3 separate regions of the Homo sapiens genome follow, and regions 2 and 3 are each linked to region 1. Evidence: fine-mapped expression QTL. A gene starts in region 1. Each other region holds a variant in brackets. All regions are shown on one strand. Distances are between the middles of the regions. Region 1 holds the start of CDC42BPB (CDC42 binding protein kinase beta). Region 2 overlaps CDC42BPB (CDC42 binding protein kinase beta). Region 3 overlaps LOC124903391.

What was found. PIP is the estimated chance that this variant, and not a neighbour inherited with it, causes the effect. A credible set is the group of variants that fine-mapping cannot tell apart.
Region 2: its variant is the best candidate, but not a certain one, in a credible set for the expression of CDC42BPB in monocytes (Schmiedel 2018, PIP 0.74).
Region 3: its variant is the best candidate, but not a certain one, in a credible set for the expression of CDC42BPB in whole blood (TOPMed, PIP 0.51).

The regions. Positions count from the first base shown.
Region 1 is chr14:103,053,612-103,061,485 of GRCh38, forward strand. It overlaps CDC42BPB (CDC42 binding protein kinase beta), which reads right to left and starts at 3,938. Exons shown (of 37, transcript NM_006035.4): 1 at 3,388-3,938. The coding sequence starts at 3,562. RefSeq lists silencers at 3,610-3,689, 3,780-4,279, 4,320-4,429 and an enhancer at 4,425-5,075.
Region 2 is chr14:102,992,430-103,000,303 of GRCh38, forward strand. It overlaps CDC42BPB (CDC42 binding protein kinase beta), which reads right to left. Exons shown (of 37, transcript NM_006035.4): 5 at 7,136-7,284. Among named protein-coding and RNA genes, the nearest start is that of CDC42BPB, 61 kb to the right of the region's middle. RefSeq lists an enhancer at 5,972-6,518. The variant G/A (reference allele first, on the strand shown) is at 4,833.
Region 3 is chr14:103,192,393-103,200,266 of GRCh38, forward strand. LOC124903391 reads right to left here. Exons shown (of 2, transcript XM_047432044.1): 2 at 3,803-4,083. Among named protein-coding and RNA genes, the nearest start is that of LINC00605, 7.3 kb to the left of the region's middle. The variant G/C (reference allele first, on the strand shown) is at 4,743.

The DNA of each region.
Region 1 (7,874 bases):
ATTAGCCAGGCGTGATGGCGGGCGCCTGTAGTCCCAGCTACTCAGGAGGCTGAGGCAGGAGAACAACGTGAACCCGGGAGGCAGAGCTTGCAGTGAGCCGAGATCCCGCCACTGCACTCCAGCCTGGGCGACAGAGTGAGACTCCGTCTCAAAAAAAAAAAAAAAAGTTGAAATGACTCTTGTCCCATGCGACCACTGTGGCAATAAGAAAATATGAGCCAAAAATAATCATATTTTATTTATTTTTGAGACAGGGTCTCACTCTGTTGCCCAGGCTGGAGTGTAGTGGCATGATCATTGCTCATTGCAGCCTTGACCTCCCAGGCTCAAGTGATCCACCCACCTCAGCCTCCAGAGTAACTGGGACTACAGGTGTGCGCCACCATGCCCAGCTAATTTTTATATTTTTATAAAATTTTATTTTGACATTTATTATAGATACTGGGTTTTGTCAGGTTGCTCAGGCTGGTCTTGTCTTCCTGAGTTCAACCAATCCTCCACCTTGGCCTCCCAAAGTGCTGGGATTACAGGCATGAGCCACTGCACCAGGCCATAATCTTCCTTTAAAACTTAAAAAGTTTACTACCTATACTTTCCAAATTTCCTCACATATTCCCCATTAAGCCTCCAAATCTGGGCTGAATCAGCTACTTTTCTTCCTTAAGTTTCAAGAATTCTCCATAATTGTCATTAGATACCTGGCAAGATTTGGGAAGTGGGGAAAGGTTGGCTTTTCCACGTGACAGGAATCGACATATCAGAGGTTTCAAATGTCATGGAGTGGTGAATCCAAAAACTGAACAGTCCACTGATGGACAGCCTATATGTGTTTCCTGAGCAGAAGTAATTCCACTTGGAAGTTAGAGTACCTAATATTGCTCTATAAATAGTTTTATTCAAAAACATTATTCTGTGCTTTCCAATCGAAACAACCAGGCAATTCCAAGCAACATTAAATACTAACTGCACACATGTTAACTAGAAATACACCACTTTAGAGTTACAATGACGTATATGTTAACATAAATGAGTTTAAATACTTGTAAAATATATTGATATTTCATTAAAACACCACCTTCTAAGTCCATTCTTCCCTATAATTGAAAGTTTATACTTTTGTGCAAACTGAGTTCCTGAGAATAATGTAGTTTGTAATCACAATTTCCAAAGAGCCAGAATACAACTTTGAAAATATGTCTATGTTACAGCACAGTTCCCGTTTAGATTTGGAAAGGCCAGATCTCATAAAATATGACCTCCACACATGCTGACAAGAGCTTCCTCCAGGGAAGCCCACCAGTAATGCCTGGTGGAGAGAGGTGGCTGCACAATGGCCCCCAGGGCCCCCGCCCTCAGACTAATCTTCTAGGTCCCAGGCCAGAGGCCAGTGGGACCACATCTTCCCAGCAAAACCAACTTTCCCTCTGCTTCCTCTTCCCAGTCACACTCACAGGTGGTGCACCAAGTTGAACCTGACAGTGGAACTGTGTGGGTTTCAAGATCGAGTGATCAGAAAGGAACGGTAAACAAGCTGGGTGCAGTGGCTCACGCCTGTAATCCCAGCACTTTGGGAGGCCGAGGCAGGTGGATCACCCGAGGTCAGGAGTACAAGACCAGCCTGGCCAACACTGTGAAACCCCTTCTCCACTAAAAATACAAAAATGAGCCGGGCATGCTGGTGCGTGCCTGTAGTCCCAGCTACTCGGGAGGCTGAGGCAGGAGAATTACTTGAACCCAGGAGATGGAGGTTGTAGTGAGCCAAGATCATGCCACTGCACTCCAGCCTAGGCAACACAGTGAGACTCGTCTCCAAAGAAAAGAAAGAAAAGGTAAACAAAATATTCAGATTTTAACATGCACCAAAGACCTCACTTTCAAAGCAACGGTGAAGTCAATTAATTATTCAGTTGGAAATCGTGTCACTGACAAAGGACGCTAGAAAGCAAATACTCTTAATTTACTGATACTATAAGTAACCAAGAATGGTGGTTCCCACGGAAATAAAGCATCACAGGCTGTCCTTGATCTCAGGACCTCTTTCTACTGCTGCTCTCACAAGATACCGTGTAACATTTCACTACAGAGTAATCCAACAGAAGCCCTCTAAAGAATATTGCAACTTAAGTTTTATTTGTAAACAAAATTCCAAATTCCAGTCACCAATCTGGCAGAGTAGAGTAGGAGGCCTGGAGGCCTCACTGTGGAACACTTTCATTTGTTTCTTCGTATAAATATCAGCTTTATCAGCCCCAAAGATTAGAAATTACTGGTTCGAACTGAACAGTCCTAGCCCAGTGACGCAAATGACCCAAGGATAAGGTTTTCATAGGTTTGGCCTGAACATACGCATTTCCTCCTCCTACTCAGTGGTTTTAGGTGAGACAGTCTGAGGGTCTTGACCGGCACACCCGTTAGGGAGAGATGAAGTAAAAGAGTTTCACGCTGCACTTTTACCTGTCTTTAGGATCCTAATTATCGTTAAATGGTTTAATCAAATTTTTGTCCTAAAAAAGCATAATAGGTTAGCTGACCAATGATTAAAACATTATAGATCCGGAACGAACTAGAGAAGGCATGCAAAATTCAGATGAGAAAGTTTCTAAGTGATAGCTCCAGCTACCCCTCCAAATATCACAAAGGTCTAGCAGAATTGGAATTAAAAAAAAAAAGTCCTCTTGCACGGTTTATTTAAAATAAAGCCTTAACCTTAAAATTCCCTTGAAGGTGTTACAGCAAAGTAGGTATTCAGGCTCTGACCAACAAGGGGATGTAGACAGGCTGTCACCCAGGAGGGGCCGTTAGAGCTGGGCTCCCTGGGGATGCAAGGGGGTCCCACGGGGCAGTGGGCGAGGCAGATGCAGAAAGCACACCCAGCTGCCCCCACAACGCAGAGAAGCGTGGGGTGGGGAAAGGGAACTAATTCCACACTGCCTCCGGACCCCAAAGGCGAGGTGCGGGGGCGGGGGCGGGGGCGGGGGCGGATATCCCAGTGAGTGCTGCAGGAAATGATATCCAGACTCGGAGGGTGGATCTAGGAAGCCGCCAGGGCGAGGGCCCGGCGGGGGGGAGGGGGTGGGAGTGGGAACGTAGGATGTGGCTCCAAGGGGCAGGATGAGGGGGCGGGACGATCGAACGCGGATGTCGAGCCTAGGGAGGGCAAGGAGGGATGAAAAGCTAGCGGAGGGACGAGGGTGCAAGGAGCGGCTGGAGAGAGATGGGCTGCGGGCCTGGGGGCGCTGCCAGAGCGAGAGGAGGCGAAGCCCACGAGCTGGGTGGGCAGGAGGGCGGCAGGGTCTGTCCGGGCGGGGATGGGCGGGCGTGGGGATGCGCGGGCTGGGGCGCGGGGGTCGCAGAGCCGCAGGTCCGGCCCTGCCGGCGCGCACTTACCCCACTCGAGGAACTCGGCCACGTACTTGTCGCGGCGCAGGGCCGAGTGGCTGCACTCGGTGTACAGGCAGACGAGCACGTCGAGCAGCGTTTCCACGCTCAGGGCGCTCTCGTTGCGCCAGGGCCCGTCCAGGAGCAGCTGCTCCAGCTTCTTGAGCCGCACCTTGGCCGACATGGTGCCGCGCGGCCCGCTCCCGACGCGCCGGCCTCTCACCGCCGGCTCGGCCAGTCCGTCAGGGCGCGCCCTCGGGGGCTCGGCGGCTGCGAGCCCCGGCAGCAGCGGCGCCTCCTCGCCGCCCCGTCCGCGTCGTCGCGCCCCGGCCTAGGCCGACATCTTGGGCTCCGTCCCGACGGCGCAGAGTCTGGGGCGCCGGGCCCCGCGGGTCCATGGGCCGCTCTCCTCCCCTCGGCGCCGCCGCCCTCCCAGCTCGGGCGGCCCGCCCCCGCCGCCCTCAGCCCCGCCCGCGGCCGCGCCCTCCCCGCCGCCGCCGCCGCAGACTAGGAGCGGCGAGGAGCCTAGCGCTGCGCAAGCCCGGCCGGCGCCCGAGCCCGACCCCAGCCCCGACCCGGCGGCCCAGCCCCGCGGCCCGCAGCCAACCAGGGCGCGGCCAGCACCAGCGCAGCCAACCACTACGGGGCCGGCCGCCGCCGCGCTGACCTCAGCGCGCCGCCCCGCCCCGCGCCCGGCTCCCTGCTCCCGGCGGGCTCGGGCCTCGCCGCTTGCCGTAGGGAGCCGGGATGCTGGGAAGGCAGGGCCGGGCCTGGGGAGCGGCGCGGGGTGGGGGTGGGGGGGGCGGGGCGGGGCGAGTGGGCCGCTGAGATTGCGGAGCCCGCGCATGCGCAGAGCGCGCCTGGTGGGCGTGTGCGCCTTCGCCCTGCGGACCCGGTGCCTTCAGTATTCGGGGTCCGACCGCGCGCGTCGCGGATCCCGGGGCCGAAGACGACCCCAAGTATCGGAGAGGCAGAGTCGCGATCTCAGGCCGTCGAGCCCCGTCCCGCAGTCCGCGGGCCCATGTTGCCTGCGGGGCCTCGGACCTGCCCGGCCGAGGTGGGGGTCGAGGGCGGCCCGGCAGGCGCAGCTCTGATGGCCTCGGCGGGTTGTGGGCTATTTAAAACGGCTTGTCCCAGCTCGAAGCGGTCCTGGAAGACTCGGGCCCTACCCCTGACTTTACCGATGAGAGACTGAGGCCCAGACGGTGTGGGGTCAGGGCCCAGGCTTCTGGGGGATGCTGCCAAGGCGGGAGCCAGCGTCCCCAGTGCCCGGTGGATTCGTGATGGCTTGCAGAGGGTTTCAGTTTCCACTGTCCAGCCCTCCCTGCAGACCAATGCCTAGGTGTGACAGTTTGGTAGGAAAGGGGCCGGATATTTGTCTCCAGGCTGGGTTTGCCTAGCGAGTCGCTGCATTTACTAAGATTGTTGGTTAATTTGGGTGGCTGGGGGAGGGAGGCTGATGGAGATACCCCCCAACCCCAACAAACCCTTGGCGTCAGGAGAGGAGGGGCTTTTCCTGGAGCTTGCGGAAGGTCACCGAAATCGTGGGGGTATCTGAGAGCTTCTGGGGCGCGCGGGTGCAGGGGAAGGGGTCATGCTTCCGTGGAAGCGGTGGCCTCCAGGTGGAGCCGATGAAGGGGCAGATAGGGGTTTGAAGCAGGACGTTAAGGGAGCCTGAAGCAAAACTAATCTCTGGAGCTAAAAATAGGAGTGGGCCTGGCGCGGTGGCTCACACCTGTAATCCCAGCACTTTAGGAGGCCGAGGTGGGCGGATTGCCTGAGCTCAGGACTTCGAGACCAGCCTGGGCAACACGGTGAAACCCCGTCTCTACTAAAATACAAAAAACTAGCCGGGCGTGGTGGCGCGCGCCTGTAGTCCCAGCTACTCGAGAGGCTAAGGCAGGAGAATTACTTGAACCCGGGAGGCGAAAGTGCAGTGAGCCAAGATCGCTCCACTGCACTCCAGCATGGGCAACAGAGCACGACTCCGTCTTAATAATAGTAATAATAATAAGAAGAAGAAGAAGAAGAAGAGGAGTGGCTGCCTATGCCGGAGTTGTTGACTGGAACAAGAGGAGGAACCTTCTGGGCTGCTGGTAATGTTCTATGCCTGGATTTGGGTAGTAGTTACATGGGAGCACGCATAAGTAAACATTCTTCAAACTGTCTTCTTAAGATGAGTGCATGTCACTGTGTGTATGTATATATAATACCTTCATTTCTTAAAGGCAGGTGAGAACAATCTGGCGTTAGAGGTGAGAGTACTGGTTGCCTTTGGGGTATCAACTGGAAGGAGGCACAAGGAGAGGCCTCTAGGGGGCTGGGAACATTCTGTATCTTCAGCACAGCCGTTTTGTAACGTTGGGTCTGTAAATGTGTATAAATTCATCAAACTGTATTCTAAATATTTGCATGTTACTATTTGTGTATGACACCTTAAAAGTTTTTTTTAAAAAGTCTGAGCAGATCACCTGGCTCAAAATCAAAGTTAAATCTTCCCCCTTGGACCCCTTAGGGCCTGAGATGAGCAAGGGGAAAGGGGGCTGTGCCTGGTGCCATCTCCTTCCCCAAACCTCCCTCGGCTCGCTCAGCCCACTTCCACCCATCTAGAACCACCACCGGGAAGGGAGAAAGGGAGAAGTGGGGAAGGGCTCCAATCCCATCTGGATTGGCAGAGGGTAAAGCTGACCCTGTCTCTCCTGGGAACATTCATGGGCTCCTCGGTGGTTCCCTGCTGCTTTGTCTCCTGAAGTCCCCTTAACTCAAGCAGATGTGCCACTGGGTGGATGCTTACCTGGTGGCTGTGGAGGGGAGGGGCCCTCTGCCCTTCCTGAGGGACTTTTGGACAGGACCTAAATGGATCCATGGGTCTTGTGCTTGCTCATCCACCCAGCTCACATCTGTCCTCAGGAAACACTGGCACACTCCTCGCCCCAACATTAGTGAACAGGTGGGTCCCAGCACAGCAGCATAGCTCTGCCTCTGAAACAGCACATGAGCCCTTCCTGCCACTGTGCCCTCCAAATTGAGTGCCAAATATTGAGCTCTCTGAGAAATCCCTTGGAAGCCACCCTCACAGGCTTAAAGTGAAGGAAGGAGTGCCTGTCCTCTGTGTCCCCTGGCAGGATCACCTGACCAAACTTTCTCTTCCACTCTCATCTTTTATTCCTGAGTGTGGGACAGATTCCCAAACATTTCTCTTGACAATCTGCCCATGGCGATCTGACATAGCATTTGAGAATTCCACATCTGCTCTCTCTTCTTGCCTCCTGGAAATTTCCATTTACTGTTCTTATACATTTACAAATGTACAACAAAGGTCATCGTGCCTTTGGTGGACAGTCCTTGTATTCGTCTGCCCTCGCTTTCTCTCTCTCCTGAGCCCCATGCCCTGTGAGTCTGTGCTCCAGCTCCACTCTGATCATAGGATTCTAGAGGGGCTGGCACCAGGGTGGACATGTGACCCAAGACCCTAGCAGCACTTCATCCCCCTTCAGTCATGTGACTGAAGCCAGGCCAATCAGAGAACTTATTTGTTTATGTATTCATTTATCTATTTATTTTTTAGAGACATGGTCTTGCTCCGTCATACAGGCTGAAGTGACTTGGCACAATCATAGCTCACTGCAGCCTTGAACTGCCAGGCTCAAGTAATCCTCCCATCTCAGCCTCCACAGTAGTGGGGACTACAGGTGTATGCCACCACATCTGGCTAATTTAAAAAAATTTTTTTAGAGAAGGAGTCTTGCTATGTCGCCCCGGTTGGTCTTGAACTCCTGGTCTCAAACAATCTTGCTCCCTCAGCAGATAACTTATTTAGAATGTTTTATACTGGCTGGGTGTGGTGGCTCACACATGTAATCCCAGCATTTTGGGAGGCCAAGGCGGGCAGATCATTTGAGGTCAGGAGTTCGAGACCAGCCTGACCAAAATGGTGAAACCTTGTCTCTACTAAAAATACCAAAAATAAAAATAAAAAATTAGCTGGGTGTGGTTGTGCACACCTGTAATCTCAGCTACTTTAGAGAATGAGGCAGGAAAACTACTTGAACCCAGGAGGCAGAGGTTGCAGTGAGTCAAGATGGCGCCACTGCACTCCAGCCTGGGTGACAGAGCGAGACTCCATCTCAAAAAGAAAAAGAAAAAGAAAAAGAAGGCCGGGCGCAGTGGCTCACGCCTGTAATCCCAGCATTTTGGGAGACCGAGCTGGGTGGATCACTTGAGGTCAGGAGTTTAAGACCAGCCTGGCCAACATGGTGAAACCCCGTCTCTACTAAAAATATAAAAATTAGCGGGGCATGGTGGCGCATGCCTGTAATCCCAGCTACTTGGGAGGCTGAGGCAGGATAATCACTTGAACCCGGAAAGCGGAGGGTGCAGTGAGCAGAGATTGCACCAGTGCACTCCAGCCTGGACAACAGAACAAGACTCCATCTCAAAGATAGTAATAATGATAAATAAAATAAAAAATAAAAAGAATGTTTCATACTAAAACT
Region 2 (7,874 bases), 61 kb before region 1:
AATTGACCCTCAGGCCAGCCAGTGTGGTGGGGTAGAGACGGTGCTCCTCTCGTTACGGAAGAGGCAGCTGAGGAGCAGTGACTGCTGCCGCCTCCCAGCCTGCGCTGACAGCACAGTGACATCACGAATGCCAGCACCTGTGCTCACGTCACACGCTGCAATAACCTAAGAATCCACTCACCGCCTCACCAACTGTTTCAGCACATCAGAATTCAAAAACAATTTTTGTCTCACATTACTTTAGCAGCTTTGACACAAAATCTTTAAGTCTGAAAGAAAAAAATCAAAAGGAAAACATCTGCTGAATATACATATATTCAAAAATATATATATTCAAAAAATATATATTAAAAATATATATATTCAAAAATATATATTAAAAATATATATTTTATTTATTTATTTATTTATTTTTGAGACAGAGTCTCACTCTGTCACCCAGGCTGGAGTGCAGTGACACAATCTCAGCTCACTGCAACCTCTTGACTCCCTGGGTTCAAGCGATTCTCATACCTCAGCCTCCCAAGTAGCCGGGATTACAGGCGTGCACTACCACGCCCAGCTAGTTTTTTGTATTTTTAGTAGAGACAGGGTTTTGCCATGTTGGCCAGGCTGGTCTTGAACTTGTGAGCTCAAGCAATCCACACACCTCGGCCTCCCAAAGTGTTGGGATTACAGGCGTGAGCCACTGCACCTGGCCCATCTGCTGAATATATTATTTTCACTAATAAAAATCCTCTTTTCTTGGAAGTGTCTACTATACATATTTAAATACATCTCAATTAAATTTGCTTCAGAGGAACAAATTCTTCTTCATACGTTATATATACTACGTTCACTTCCCAACAGACTCCACCAGTGTTGGGAAGAAAGGCAGGTATCTGCAACTCTGAAGGCTGTGTGCACAGGGCATGCCGCAGGTGGGTTCTCAATGAGCCGCTCCACATGGGATGCGAGGCTTCTGGCCAAGAGCACGTCTATTAACAGCACTTTTGGGGACATCTAACAGACTCTCCCACGTCCACCAGTTTTTCTGCATTCTTTTCTCATGAAAAAAGAGTGAAAGGCAGAAAGAGAGAGGGAGAGTTGGAAGGATGAGAGGATGGAAGGATGGAGGGAAAGAGGGAGGGAGGGAGGGGAAATGAAGACCAACACTCCTGGAAGCAGAAGCAGACCCAGCCCTTCCCCTACCCTCCCCATGACCAGGGCACTCAGAAGCGCTCACTCGACCTCACAAACTTTTCACCATGGCTTCCTGCCTCCACTCCCTTCTGTGAGTCACCCATGTAAATAAAAGATGACCAGTTTTATGACAAGGAAGACTTGAAGCAATGCATACAGGACAAATGTATGAAGAGAAGCTCAAGGAGGTTGTGTAACAAGCTCTATACCTGGCTGCCGGGAAGAAATGGATTAAAGACAAGGATAATTACACTACTTTATTTAGACTGGAACAAACTGGTTCTTCTCCCCAAAAATCTCATCATTTAGGCTTAACTTTTTTGGTTTGGGAATGGAAGGCAGGGCAATTCAGAGAAATGGAGAAATGATTATATAGGAAAATGTTTAAGGCAAATAACCATAATTTCACATACACACGAAAAATGTCCCAAGTGGCCTGAGACAGGCTAGGAAGACACAGAAGAGAGTAAGGAGGCGCCGAGACACGCCACAACAGGTGTTCTATGGACCGAGTTAGCAGGAATGCAACGACCAGAGTCCAGGCTAAACAGGACCTGGTTGCCAGGAATTCCCTATAAAACAGGGATGTTTTTCCAGGGGCCACCCCAGGACCACCAACACAGTACACTCTGAGAAGACAGGCCGAGGAGGGGTCTCCGGAAGGCCATCTTCCTTGTATACCTTCCAGGGGCCATTTGCACGCACTGGGGGTCATCTGCGCCGTATAATTCTGTATTTAAAACATGTGGTGGTGGTTGATTTTTTTTTTTTAAGTGAACTTGCTGTTTGTGTGAGGAAAGCTCTCCTGACAGAAGAGCACTGGAGGTTCAGGGCAAGGGCTGACCTATGGCTCCCAACCGCCGAGGCCTTTAGATGGGCAGATGCCCAGGCCAACTGAGAGAGCTGACGGTCCCCATGGGCCACTGTGCTGGGACTGCCTATGTCCATTCTCCTCTAATGGCACAGCGGGGAGCAGCGGCGTCTTCAGGGGAGAGTCAGGCACAGCGCTGAGAAGCAGCTCTAGGCTCCCCCAAGTGCATTTTCTCCCAGCTGCTGAGATTCTGGCTAAAATCAGTGGCATCCAGCAGGTGTGGGTGAAAGAGCCATGGTGAATTGCAGGCTTTATGTCTCCCTTCCAGCTCTTCCTCTGACACTGAAAAGGGAGGCTGCTTCTGTCCCTCACCGTACCATTTCTGAGTGATGTCAACTCCCACTTCCATCCGTTCCCCTTGTGGAACTTCCTGCTGCAAAACCAGCAGAGGTCTGATTCCCACAGCAGGTGTGCCTCAGCCTCCAGAGCACAGTCCACCACCTGGGGTGTGGCTCCAGAGCCACTCTGACCGCCAGATCTTCTCTCCGAGGTTTTCTTTTCTTTTTTTCCTTTTTGTCAGATTTCCTCTACTTCATCTTCTGCCTCTTCTACTCAACTTTCTACTTTAGCTTTTATTTTCCAAGACTTTTTGTTTTCTACATATTCTTTTTCTTAAAATTTGTACTCTGTTCTTATTTTGTTCATACACTATACTCTCTGCTCTCTCTTTAGGGATGTGATGTTCTCTCTCTCTCTCTTTTTTTTTTTTGAGACAGAGTATCGCTCTTGTTCTCCAGGCTGGAGTGCAATGGCGCGATCTCGGCTCACTGCAACCTCCACTTCACGGGTTCAAGCAGTCCTCCTGCCCCAGCCTCCCGAGCAGCTGGGAGTACAGGTGCTCATCACTAAGCCTGGCTAATTTTTTGTATTTTTAGTAGAGACAGGTTTTACCATGTTGGCCAGGCAGGTCTCAAACTCCTGACCTCAGGTGATCCACCTGCCTAGGCCTCCCAAAGTGCTGGGATTACAGGCGTGAGCCACTGTGGCCGATGTTCTCTCTCTGAAACCCTTTGTGTCATTCATGATCTCTGCCTTTCCGGATATCATCAGGGGCTGACCTCTCAGGAAGGAGCTGTACCCACCTGTGAGGGGCACCCACAGGGTCCTGGTCTGCCACTGATTTCCTCACCCGGAAGGCTTTTGGGGTCCAGCTGCGGAAACCAGGCAGCAGCTGTGAAACCTGCAGACCCCCGCCTGCGGGGTGGGATCCCCACAGCACCCGACTAACCCCAGGAAGGGGCCCAAGCGGCAGCACAGTGGCACGGGCTCCAAACCATGCTGTAACGTCAGCCACGCCGTAAAGTTGGCCACACCGTAACATCGGCCAGCGGCACCACTCTGGCGCCAATGACATTTCTTTCTGACCCTACCAAATGTTCACAATGCCCCCACCTGAGACTGGGGTAAGACAGGCCTCCTAGAAAAATCTCTGTTCTATTTTTAGATTGCATCTGGGCACTCAGTCTGAATAATGAGTTAATTTGGGGGGAAAAATAAAGTTTTAAAATTACATATTTTGATGTCTACTATGCCCGGACGTCAAACGACTGAGCAAAGCTTCTACACAGCCAATTAAGAGAATGAGGATGGCTCACGCCTGTAATCCCAGCACTTTGGGAGGCCGAGGCGGGCGGATCACGAGGTCAGGAGATCAAGACCATTCTGGCTAACACGGTGAAACCCCATCTCTACTAAAAATACAAAAAAATTAGCTGGGCGTGGTGGTGGGCACCTGTAGTCCCAGCTACTCGGGAGGCTGAGGCAGGAGAATGGCGTGAACCCGGGAGGCGGAGCTTGCAGTGAGCTGAGATGATGCCACTGCACTCCAGCCTGGGTGACAGAGCAAGACTCCGTCTCAAAAAAGAAAAGAGAGAGAGAATGAGGAGAACGCTTTCTATTTAGGGGGAGAAAAACAATTTAAAAGGTGGTCAAACTAATTTCCCTGGAGATCTGTGATAAATACAAAGACATTTATTTCTCTATTGTGAATTAAGTTCTACCAAGAAGACAGTATAAAATCTAAATGTTAAAACCTATACTAACTTATGGGCCGGGGGAGGTGGCTCATGCCTGTAATTCCAGAACTTTGGGAGGCCGAGGTGGGTGGATCACCTGAGGTCAGGAGTTCTAGACCAGCCTGACCAACATGGAGAAACCCCATCTCTACTAAAAACACAAAATTAGTTGGGTGTGATGGTGCATGCCTGTAATCCTAGCTACTCGGGAGGCTGAGGCAAGAGAATTGCTTGAACCTGGGAGGTGGAGATTATAGTGAGCTGAGACCGCTCCATTGTACTCCAGCCTAGGCAACAAGAGTGAGACTCCATCTCAAAAAAAAAAAAAAACAACCTATACTAATTTATAAAAGCAAGCATAACTATGTTAAGAAATGTATTTTTTAAAAAGAAAGAAAGAGAAAGCAATGTCCACAACCTCATCACACTAAATGAGTGTCTGTTCTATCGGGACAGCTCCCTGTGTGCTGGGAGGTGCGAGCCATCAGCAATGAGGCTAAGGAAAGGCGCCCACCTCTCTAGCCTCAACTTCCTCCTCTAGCAACGAAGCAGCACTCCAGCAAGACGGAAGAGCTATAACTCAGCAGCGCCCTTGCTCCCCACACAGGAGGGGCTGTGTCTGCTTGGGAAAGCCTCCTGATCACCACGGAGGGGGCCCGAGCACAGGCCTACAGCTCAGAACACAAAGCCATGGAGACCACAATGGCCTCACACCTCTCGAGAGCAGCCTCAAGGTGGAAGACACAGACACATGTGATGCCTGC[G/A]AAGTCCCAAGGGGAAAGTGGTTTCCAACTAAAATCTCCACACTGGATAAAGCACCAGTCACAGACACACATGGAATAAAGGCACTGATTTCAAAAAACTCTCTCATATACCCCCCTTCCAGCCACCACTGGAGGACACGCGCTACCAAGCCAAACTAAAAAGCCAAGAAAAAGAAAAATGAACGGCTCGGAAAAGCTGGGAGCCAGTCCCAGAAAGGGAGAGGGGATCTCTGCACTTGAAAAGCCATCTCAGAATGAGTGCAGCACAGGACAAATGAGGAACCAACGTGGAAGAGAGGAGGGGAACGATGGAAGGGACAGCGCCAAGGAAAACCAGATCGAGACTACCCGATGCATGTCCGGTACGGAGCTTCATAACGTGGCCACAATATCTGGGGACAAATTAGTGACAGCTACAAAGAAAAGCTAATAAAAAGCAAGGCAATTATCAACTCCAGAGAAAGCAGAAGTTTATGTAAGTGTAGTTCTCAACTACAAGGCTGCTGTCATAGTTACGCAGTCACAGTATTATCAACACCAAATGCTGACTGAACCATAGCTGAAAGGATGGATTTTAACCATTCTAATCAGGATGACGTGGAGCCGGGCGCGGTGGCTCACGCCTGTAATCCCAGCACTTTGGGAGGCCGAGATGGGCGGATCACTTGAGGTCAAGAGTTCAAGACCAGCCTGGCCAACATGGCGAAATCCCATCTCTACTAAAAATACAAAAAAATTAGCTGGGCGTAATGGCTACTCAGGAGCCTGAGGCAGGAGAATCTCTTGAACCCAGGAGGCAGAGGCTATAGTGAGTGAAATCACGCCACTGCACTCCAGCCTGGGTGGCAGAGCGAGACTCCATCCTAAAAAATATATCAAAATAAAAATGAAAAGGATGATGTGGGAGAAAGGAAGACAGTTTGGAAGTATATGTGAGAGAGATGGGTGACAGAGAGAAAGAGGTAATTATGTAAAAGAGTTAAAATTTCAATTTCATAGATGTGATCTAAAGCCAAAAAAGAAAAGAAAGAAATTAGCAATATAAACCTGTGACTTAAGACACATGAAGGCAGATGCTGGAAAAATAATTTTACAAATTTACAATAGTTACCTGACCAAGTGTAATCAGCGGGGCCAGGGCTGGGCTTGGTTTTGGTTGGAGGCTCTATAGAACTGTTTGACTTTTTAAACCTATTACCATAAAATTATCTTGTAATAAAAATACAAGTAAAACTAGTTTTTAAAAACAACGAAAACCAAAACAAACCACAGGACTGAATCTTTGAGTCTCAGGACAAGAGGGATGTGAAGATGTGGACTCAGTGGCTGAGTCACTGGGGAGCTGCCCTCCCAGCCGAGAAGGCAGAGGGGGCCCCTGAGAGCAGGAGACGGAGCTGCTTTAGGCCTCTGCCCCACACGCTCTCTCAGCTCAACTCCTGCAAGTCGCAGTGATGGAAGCCTCTTCCTCAAGCCCTATTTCCTTTGTGAGTGTCCTGGGGCCCTTCAGGGGTCAGCACGGCACAGAGAAGACCAGAGTTGAGAAAGAATGTGGGGACAGAGGGCCCCAGGCCCCACACGAGACATTTCAGGGTGGTAAGGACAGAGGACCCTGAGCCCCACGTGAGCCCCAGGGAGCACAGGCATTTTAGGGAGGGGGTCTTGGGCGGTAGAGACAGAGGACCCCGGGGCCCACGTGAGCCCCAGGGAGCACAGGCATTTTAGGGAGGGGGTCTTGGGCGGTAGAGACAGAGGACCCCGGGGCCCACGTGAGCCCCAGGGAGCACAAGCATTTTAGGGAGGGGGTCTTGGGCGGTAGAGACAGAGGACCCCGGGGCCCACGTGAGCCCCAGGGAGCACAGGCATTTTAGGGAGGGGGTCTTGGGCGGTAGAGACAGAGGACCCCGGGGCCCACGTGAGCCCCAGGGAGCACAAGCATTTTAGGGAGGGGGTCTTGGGCGGTAGAGACAGAGGACCCCGGGGCCCACGTGAGCCCCAGGGAGCACAGGCATTTTAGGGAGGGGGTCTCAGACGGGGAGAAGTTGAGTCAATGTCAAATAAATATCAAAAGACACAGTGGCTTCGGCTGACAGCAGACCATGACAACTGCAACAATGAGAGCTGGGATCCACCGGCTGCTGGGGCTGGAAGACGGTGATGTGGGCAAATCAGTCTGTGCTGCGGCAGCTCAAAGTGGGGACTCGCTACCTACATGGCTTCTTGGGACGGCCTGGACTTGGGAGCTCTGAAAGGAGTCTTTTAACAATTAAACGTGGTTTCCATAAAATATATCAGAAGCCGGTTACCTGTGCACGTAATGAAGCTGATGGATGGAGTCAATGGCCAGCACCATTTCACCAATGTAGAACCTCGCCATATCTTCCGGAAGCTTGTCTTCAAATTTGCTGAGCAGGGTCAGTAAATCACCACCCACATAGTAATCCATGACTAAGTACTACAAATTGGAAAGAGAAGGGGAGAGAATACCACATTTAGTCACCACTAAACCTGACAGTTACAGGCCAGTCTTCCATGGCGAGGTTCTCAGGCTCCAGGTCTGGCTCGTGGCATCTCAGCTGCTCTTCTGTCACCCAAGACCCTCCTTCTGGAACATGCGCCCCGATGCGTCCACGACGCCGCCATCTTCAGGGGTGCATATGGCAGAGAGTGGACTTCAGTAAGTGATGTATTTAATCAATGGGAGGAATGATGAAAGGGCTTGAGGTTGGAGAGGGCACTCTAAAAGCTAGTGACCCAAAGCAGAAGCACAGTTAATAGCCCATCAATCCTATGGGTTTAAAAATAATTCTCCAGGCCCTCATGTTATGTGAGGACGACACCAGACCAGAGAAGGGAGGCAAAGTAGTTAACATCACACATGGTATCAGCAGTTCTTATTGGAAAGATTATATCATAAAAGAGCCGAAAGATAATTACTTATAGGTTCACTCCAACAGAAACCTCAGAAAAGCTCCTACTTAAGTAGAAATTGGAGTAATGGGAGAAAAAACATCTGCTAACAGGGCTGAGCCCGTCACTTCCCCG
Region 3 (7,874 bases), 140 kb after region 1:
TCACTCCCCACTGACGCCAGTAGCAGCTGCTTATTTCCCAGGAATGCCATTCCCTCCCCATGCCCAGAGGCACTAAGACCCCAGTTTCCTCCCAATTGGGAAGAGACCTGGAGGGCAGAGGGATTCTCTCTGGCATAGGGCCAAAGGCTCAGAGAGGAGTCCAAGGCTTCCTGGCCCAGCCAGGCCTGTGGAGTAAGATGAGGTCAGGAGATAGGGACAGAGGAGCCCCTGGGATATGGGTGGCACTTGCCGCCTGCAGGAAGCTCACGTTCTGACCTGCAGTTCCCTGTGATGAACTTCAAGAGGGAACTTACTGGGGGAACTCACCACCAATATTTCAACGTAAGTTCTTTCTATTTTCCACAAGTGTCAGCCAGCTGAGAAACATAGAGGGACAGTACAAAGAGAAGAATTTTACAGCTGGGCCGCTGGGGATGACATCACATATCAGTAGGACTGTGATGCCCGCCTGAGTCTCAGACCAGCAAGTTTTTATTGAGGGTTTCAAAAGAGGAGGGGGTGTAAGAACAGGGAGTAGGTACAAAGATCACATGCTTCTGAGGGAACAGGACAAAGGGCAAAAGCAGAACTACTGATGAGGGTCTATGTTCAGCGGTGCACGTACTGTCTTGATAAACATCTTAAACAACAGAAAACAGGGTGCAAGAGCAGAGAACTGGTCTGACCACAAATTTACCAGGGTGGAGTTTCCTAACCCTAGTAAGCCTGAGGGTACTGCAGGAGACCAGGGTGTATCTCAGTCCTTATCTCAACCGCATAAGACAGACATTCCCAGAATGGCCGTTTATAGATCTCCCCCCAGGAACTCATTCCTTTCCCAGGGTATTAATATTAATATTCCTTGTTAGGAAAAGAATTTAGTGATATCTTCCCTACTTGCATGTCCATTTATAGGCTCTCTGCAAGAAGAAAAATATGGCTCTTTTTGCCCGACCCTGCAGGCAGTCAGACCTTATGTTTGTCTTTCCTTGTTCCCTAAAAATCGCTGTTATTATGTTCTTTTTCAAGGTGCACTAATTTCATATTGTTCAAACACACATATTTTATAATCAACTTGTACAGTTAACACAATTATCACAGTGGTACTGAGGTGACATACATCCTCAGCTTACGAAGATAACAGGATTAAGAGATTAAAGTAAAGACAGGCATAAGAAATTATAAAAGTATTATTTGGGAACTGATAAATGTCCATGAAATCCTCACAATTTATGTTCCTCTGCCGCGGCTCCAGCTGGTCCCTCCGTTCGCGGTCCCTGACTTCCCGAAACAGGAATTCCCACTGGGGCTGCCTAACTCTGGTCAGTGAGACCAAATCTGTGATGTAGGAATAAGAAGATCCATGGTGCAGCCACCAAAGTTATCTGCTCCAGCCCAGACGTGATCTGTGACAAAGCTGGCGCTTTCATGTGCATGTTCTTGAGTCCCGTTTGTCATGTTATTTCTGGACTGGTTGGGTCTTGGGCAGGAGGAAGGAGGCTGTCACTTACTGGGTCTTTCCTCTCCTTACATTAACACTACATTGTTCCATGTTATGCTGTAAGCTTTTCAGCTGTAAAGAGCCTCAACAAGCAATTAGCAAATTCATTTCATTAGAATATTAGAAAAATAGGCCAGGCAGCCTGGGTATGGTGGCTCACGACTGTAATCCCAGCACTTTGGGAGGCCAAGGCAGACGGATCACTTGAGGTCAGGAGTTCGAGACCAGCATGGCCAACATGGTGAAACCCCATCTCTACCAAAAATACAAAAATTATATGGACGTGGTGGCAGGTGCCTGTAATCCCGGCTACTTGGGAGGCTGAGACATGAGAATCACTTGAGCTCAGGAGGTGGAGGTTGCAGTGAGCCAAGATCATGCCACTGCATTCCAGCCTGGGTGACAGAGGGAGACTCTGTCTTAAAAAAAAATTATATATATATAAAATATACCAGCCTAAATTAGGGTTTAATTCAGGAAGACGAGCATTGGTTCAGTCACTCAACAGATCAGATATATCAACTTGGCTATGATGCAACAAACACATTCCTAAAATGCGCTGGGCTATGCAAAATTGCACAATAAAAACCACAGGACTTACAAGGAAAAAACGAGGTTGGGGAAGGACACTCAAAACACCCCATCAGTGACACAATTTTTTTAAATGATAGGAACCTAATAAAGAGGGTAGAAGGGTTTTACATGCTAAATTGTTGAGGAATACATCAATACTACAATGAGCATGGCACTTTATTTGAAGGCCTGAAGTTTGCTTGTGGAGTAGATGGAGGAAGGGGTATAGCCTGTGAGATGCCCGAAGCAGGGAACAGGGTCCCCTGGGTCACTGGAGAAAACATGGTTTGGCTCTGTGTTGCCACCCAAATCTCATCTCGAATTGTAATCCGAATGTGTCAGGGAAGGGACCGGGCGAGAGGTGATTGGATCATGGTGGTGGATTTCTCCCTTGCTGCTCTTCTGATAGCGAGTGAGTTCTCATGAGATCTGATGGTTTAAGAGTATGGCACTGGCCAGGCGCGGTTGCTCCCGCCTGTAATCCCAGCACTTTGGGAGGCCGACGCGGGCAGATCATGAGGTCAGGAGTTTGAGACCAGTCTGGCCAATATGGTGAAACCCCGTCTCTACTAAAAATACAAAAATTAGCTGGGTGTGGTGGTGTGCGCCTATAGTCCCAGCTACTCGGGAGGCTGAGGCAGGAGAATTGCTTGAACCGGGACCCCAGAGGCAGAGGTTGCAGTAAGCCAAGATCGTGCCACTGCACTCCAGCCTGGGCTACAGAAAGAGACTCTGTCCCACCCCACTGTCTCTCTCCTGCCACCATGTAAGACATGCCTTGCTTCCCCTTCACCTTCCTGCATGATTGTAAGTTTCCCAAGTCCTTCCCAGCCATTTGGAACTGTGAGTCAATTAGACCTCTTTTCTTTATAAAGTACACAGTCTTATGTAGTTCTTTATAGCAGTGTGAAACTGGACTAATGCTCAATGGGTATGGCTCACAACCCAGCGGGAAACTGAGGCCACTGGCGGATTCTGAGGTGTGTGCACATGCACTGTGTGCATTCCTGTGCACCTCAGTTCCACTGGGGGTGTTTCTGGTGTTCACCTGGTGTTTCCTACAGACAATCACACATAAGCAATTGCAAAATTCATGTTGTGCTCAAATTGTTCCCTAATTGTCCAAATGCATTGGAACGAATTGACATTTTCTTTTTTTCTTTTTTTTTTTTTTTGAGATGGAATCTCATTCTGTCACCCAGGCTGGAGTACAGTGGCATGATCTCAGCTCACTGCAACCTCCACCTCTGGGGTTCAAGTGATTCTTCTGCCTCAGCCTCCCAAATAGCTGGGACTACAGGCGCACACCACCACACTGGCTAATGTTTATATTTTTAATAGAGATGAGGTTTCACCGTGTTGGTCAGGCTGGTCTCAAATTCATGACCTCGTGATCCACCCGCCTCGGCCTCACAAAGTGCTGGGATTACAGGTATGAGCCACCGCACCCAGCCGAGTTTACATTTCAAAGCAAGCACTGTAATAGAATTGCAGTCATGTAATACCCACCATGTGATAGGCGCTGTGCTAGACGCTGCAGACGCAGCAGCGAGCCATGTGCAGCCCCACCCTCGTAGGAGTTACCTGGCAATGGGGGAAGCAATCAACAAATCAATAATCTCATTTCAGGTGATGAGAAGTGCTGTAAAGGAAAAAGGAACAAGGCAGGACAGCAAGGGATGGCTTTGTGGTAGCATTTTTTTTTTTTTTTTTTTTTTTGTAGGTCTATGTATTTGCTTCCTGGGGCAGGCGTTTACAAAGTGCCACAGCCTTGGTGGCTTCAACAGAAATGATTATCTCCCAGTTCTGAAGGCCAGATGTCTGAGATCCAGGTATCAGTAGGGGTGGTTCCTTCTGGGAGTTGGGAGGAAAGATCCGGTCCGGGCCCCTCCCAGCTGCGTGTGATCCGCTGGCAGTGTCTGGCTCCTGGCTGGTGGACACGTCTCTGCCATCCCTGCCTCCGTCTTCATGTGCTGTTCTCCCTGCGTGCATGTCGTTGTCCAAATTCCCTGTTTTACAAGGACGCCAGTTATAGTGGATGAGGGGCCCAACAACTCCAGTATGACCTCATCTTAACTAATGACATCTGCAATGACCCTGTTTCCAAATAAGGTCACATTCCGAGGTACTGAGGGCTGGGAACTCAACGTATGAATTTTGAGGGGATATGGTTCTACCTACAACAGTTGGTAAGGGAAGCCCCCTTTAAGTAAGTGACATTTGAACAAGAGGCCCCCATTCCTGACCCCTAAACCACTTCCAAAACTAAACTACTTGCACACCAGCCTATGGCCCACATCATAGATTCTGCTTGTGGAGGGGATCCGAATTTAGAGAGTACAGAAGTGGCCCTAAAAGGCAGAACCTCAGGGCAGGAGAGCACACACCCTGCAGCCCCACTGTCAGGACCCTGTTGCTGGGGGGAGTGAGCAGGTGCTGAGCCTCGGCCTGCAGGACAGCTGCCACGGCTCCCAGGGCGGATGACGATATGCACGTTGGGAAGTGAGGCCTGGGTCCATGTGGTAGAGGGGTGCTTTTTATTTTATTTTATTATTTATTTATGACAGAGTCTCACTCTTGTCGCCCAGGCTGGAGAGCAGTGGCACGATCTCGGCTCACTGCAACCTCCGCCTCCCAGATTCAAGCGATTCTCCTGTCTCAGCCTCCC[G/C]AGTAGCTGGGAGTACAGGCACCCACCGCCACGCCCAGCTAATTTTTTAGCAGAGATGGGGTTTCACCATTTTGGCCAGGCTGGTCTGGAACTCCTGACCTCAAGTGATCTGCTTGCCTCGGCCTCCCAAAGTGCTGGGATTACAGGCGTGAGCCTCCACACCCAGCCGGGGCGGGGGTGAGGGGAGTACTTTAAAAGCACTGAAGCAATAGTCAGAAGAACTGTGGGGTTGGCCCACTTAATGGTTTTAAAGGCCTCAAAATAATAATAATAACAGGCTCAAGTGAGCCAACTATCAATGTAAGACACTCTATGAGAGTCCGAAGCCTTCGGGGCAGCATGAAGAGCTCTTAGCTCTGCGGGTACAGGGTGGTTTATGATGAAAACCAGGCCCAGGAGTATTCACGACTCTGAATAATGTTCATTTCATCTCTCTCTTCAGCCATGTTTAATGTACTGTCTAATCTATTAAAGACAAACTATTTCTCACATTTCTGACACTAAATGAGGGGGGGGATGTCCCACACCAACCGATCATCCAACTCTCCGCACGCCAACTGGGTGACCTGCAATTCAATTTGGACATGAACTCCTGGGAGGTAACCCAGACCCTACAGATTAACGGCTCAGTCCCACCAGACCACCCCCAGTTCAGAAGCCAAGTGCACGTCTCAGCCTCTCATTTGTTTGTTTGTTTGTTTTTTAAAACTGAGTCTTGCTCTGTCACCCAGGCTGGAGTGCAGTGGCACGATCTTGGCTCACTGCAACCTTGGCCTCCCGGGTTCAAGCGATTCCCCTGCCTCAGCCTCCCGCATAGCTGGGGTTACAGACACCTACCACCATTGGTCCTCCCATACTCTGACCAACTGGCTATAAATCAAGGGTTCCCACGGCCCCTCCCCAGGTTCAGTAATTTGCTGTAGGGCTCACAAAACTCAGGGGTACACTTACATTGACCAGTTCATTAGAAGGCTGCAACTGGACAGTCAGATGAAGAAGTACATAGGGTGAGGTCTGCAGGTCCCTATGGCAGGGGCTTCTGTCCCCAGGGAGTCAGGTGCACCGCCCTCCTGACACGTGGATGTGCTCTCCAAACCCCTCCGTTTAGGGTTTTCATGGAGTTTCCATTATGTACATGGGCATGATTAACTTACTGACCATCAGTACTTAACTCAACCCCAGCCCTCTCCTCTCCCTGGAGGTCAGGTAGGACTGAAGGTTCCAGCCCTCCAATCACATGGGGGCCTCCTCTGCAGCCCCCAGCCTGCAGCTACCTAGGGGCTTCAGCCACCAGTCCTCTTGTTAACAGAAATTCAGCTATGGCTGAAAGGGGCGTGTTATAAATGTTAATGTAAAAACTAAACTCTGTAGAATGTTTTGCAGGGATTTATTCTGAGCCAATATGAGTGACCACAGCCAGGAGCAAACACAAACCCAGGAAGCTTTGAGTAACTGTCCCAAGGTAGTCGGATTACAGTTTGGTTTAACACATTTCAGGGAGGCAGGAGTTACCGGCGAAGACATAAATCAACACATGGAAGGTATAGGTTGGCACAGCCTGGAAAGGCAGGATATTTTCAAGCGGTGTCAGGGTGGGGATGTTATAAGGCACAGGAGCATTCGGAGATTCTTTAATTTGCAGTTGGCTGAAGGAACAAAACTTTGTCTAAAAACAGAGTTAGCAGAAAGGAATGTTTAAGGTAAGATGAGGATGCTGTGTCAGAGTCAGCCACCGTATACCAGGTCAAAAATGACCTAGTTAGCAAGATTGATGGCCTGCAGGAGTGACCTCATCCTTGTTTTGCAAGACCTTCGGTCCTGTTTGTAATTTGGTCTGTTATTGCACAAACAGTCTGCTCTTCGAATCTTATGATCTCTGTTTTAACATTAGCACTAGTCGGTTCTATCTAAACTGCAAAAGGGAGAGGTTTGAAGGAGGTCCGTCCCCTCCTGGCAGGAAACTCAGTTTTTAGTTTCTCTGGGGTCTCCTTGGCCAAGAAGAGGTCTGTTCAGTCAGTTGAGGGGCTTGGGATTTTACATTTAGTTTACGTGAATATCAAAAGATGCTCTTCTCATCCCTATCATTCAGGAAATTCCAAGGGTTTTAGATGCTCTTGGGTCAGGAGCCAGAATGAAGACCAAATATGTGATTTCTTTTCTGGGAAGTATTTATACACTCCTCCCTCGGTATCTGTAAACCATTGGTTGCAGAACCTCCCATAGTTACCAAAATCCACAGATGCTCACGTCTGGTAAAAGAAAAACTTTAGGCCGGGCGTGGTGGCTCATGCCTGTAATCCCAGCATTTTGGGAGGCTGAGGCTGGCGGATCACAAGGTCAGGAGTTCAACCTGGCCAAGAGACCAGCCTGGCCAATATGGTGAAACCCTGTCTCTACTAAAAATACAAAAATTAACCGGGCATGGTTGCGGGTGCCTGTAATCCCAGCTACTTGGGAGGCTGAGGCAGGAGAATTGCTTGAACCCAGGAGGCGGAGGTTGCAGTGAGCCAAAGATTGTGCCATTGCACTCCAGCCTGGTTGACAGAGTGAGACTCTGACTCAAAAAAGAAAAGAAAAGAAAAGAAAAACTTTAGGTAAATTAAATTTAAAAAGAAAAACTTTAGGCAAATTAAATTTATCAGTATAGGCTGGGCACAGTGGCTCATGCCTGTAATCCCAGTAATTTGGGAGGCTGAGGCGGGTGGATCACTTGAGGCCAGGAGTTTGAGACCAGCCTGGGCAACACAGTGAAACCCACAGTGAAACTCTACTAAAAATACAAAAAAAAAAACTTAGCTGGGCACAGTGGTGCATGCCTGTAATCCCAGCTACTTGGGAGCCTGAGGCACGAGACTCACTTGAGCCTGGGAGGCTGTTATCTTTGTTTTAAACTATAAACTATGAACTAAGTTTCTCCCAAAGTTAGTTCAGCCTACACCCAGGAATGAATAAGGATAGCTTGGAGGTTGGAGGCAAGATGGAGTCCTTTAAGTTGGACCTCTTTCATTGGCTCAGTCATAATTTTGCAAAGGCGGTTTCAATATTTGCATATAACCTATATACATCCTCCTGTATGCTTTATTTTATTTTTCGACACAGAGTCTCACTCTGTTACCCAGGCTGGAGTGCAGT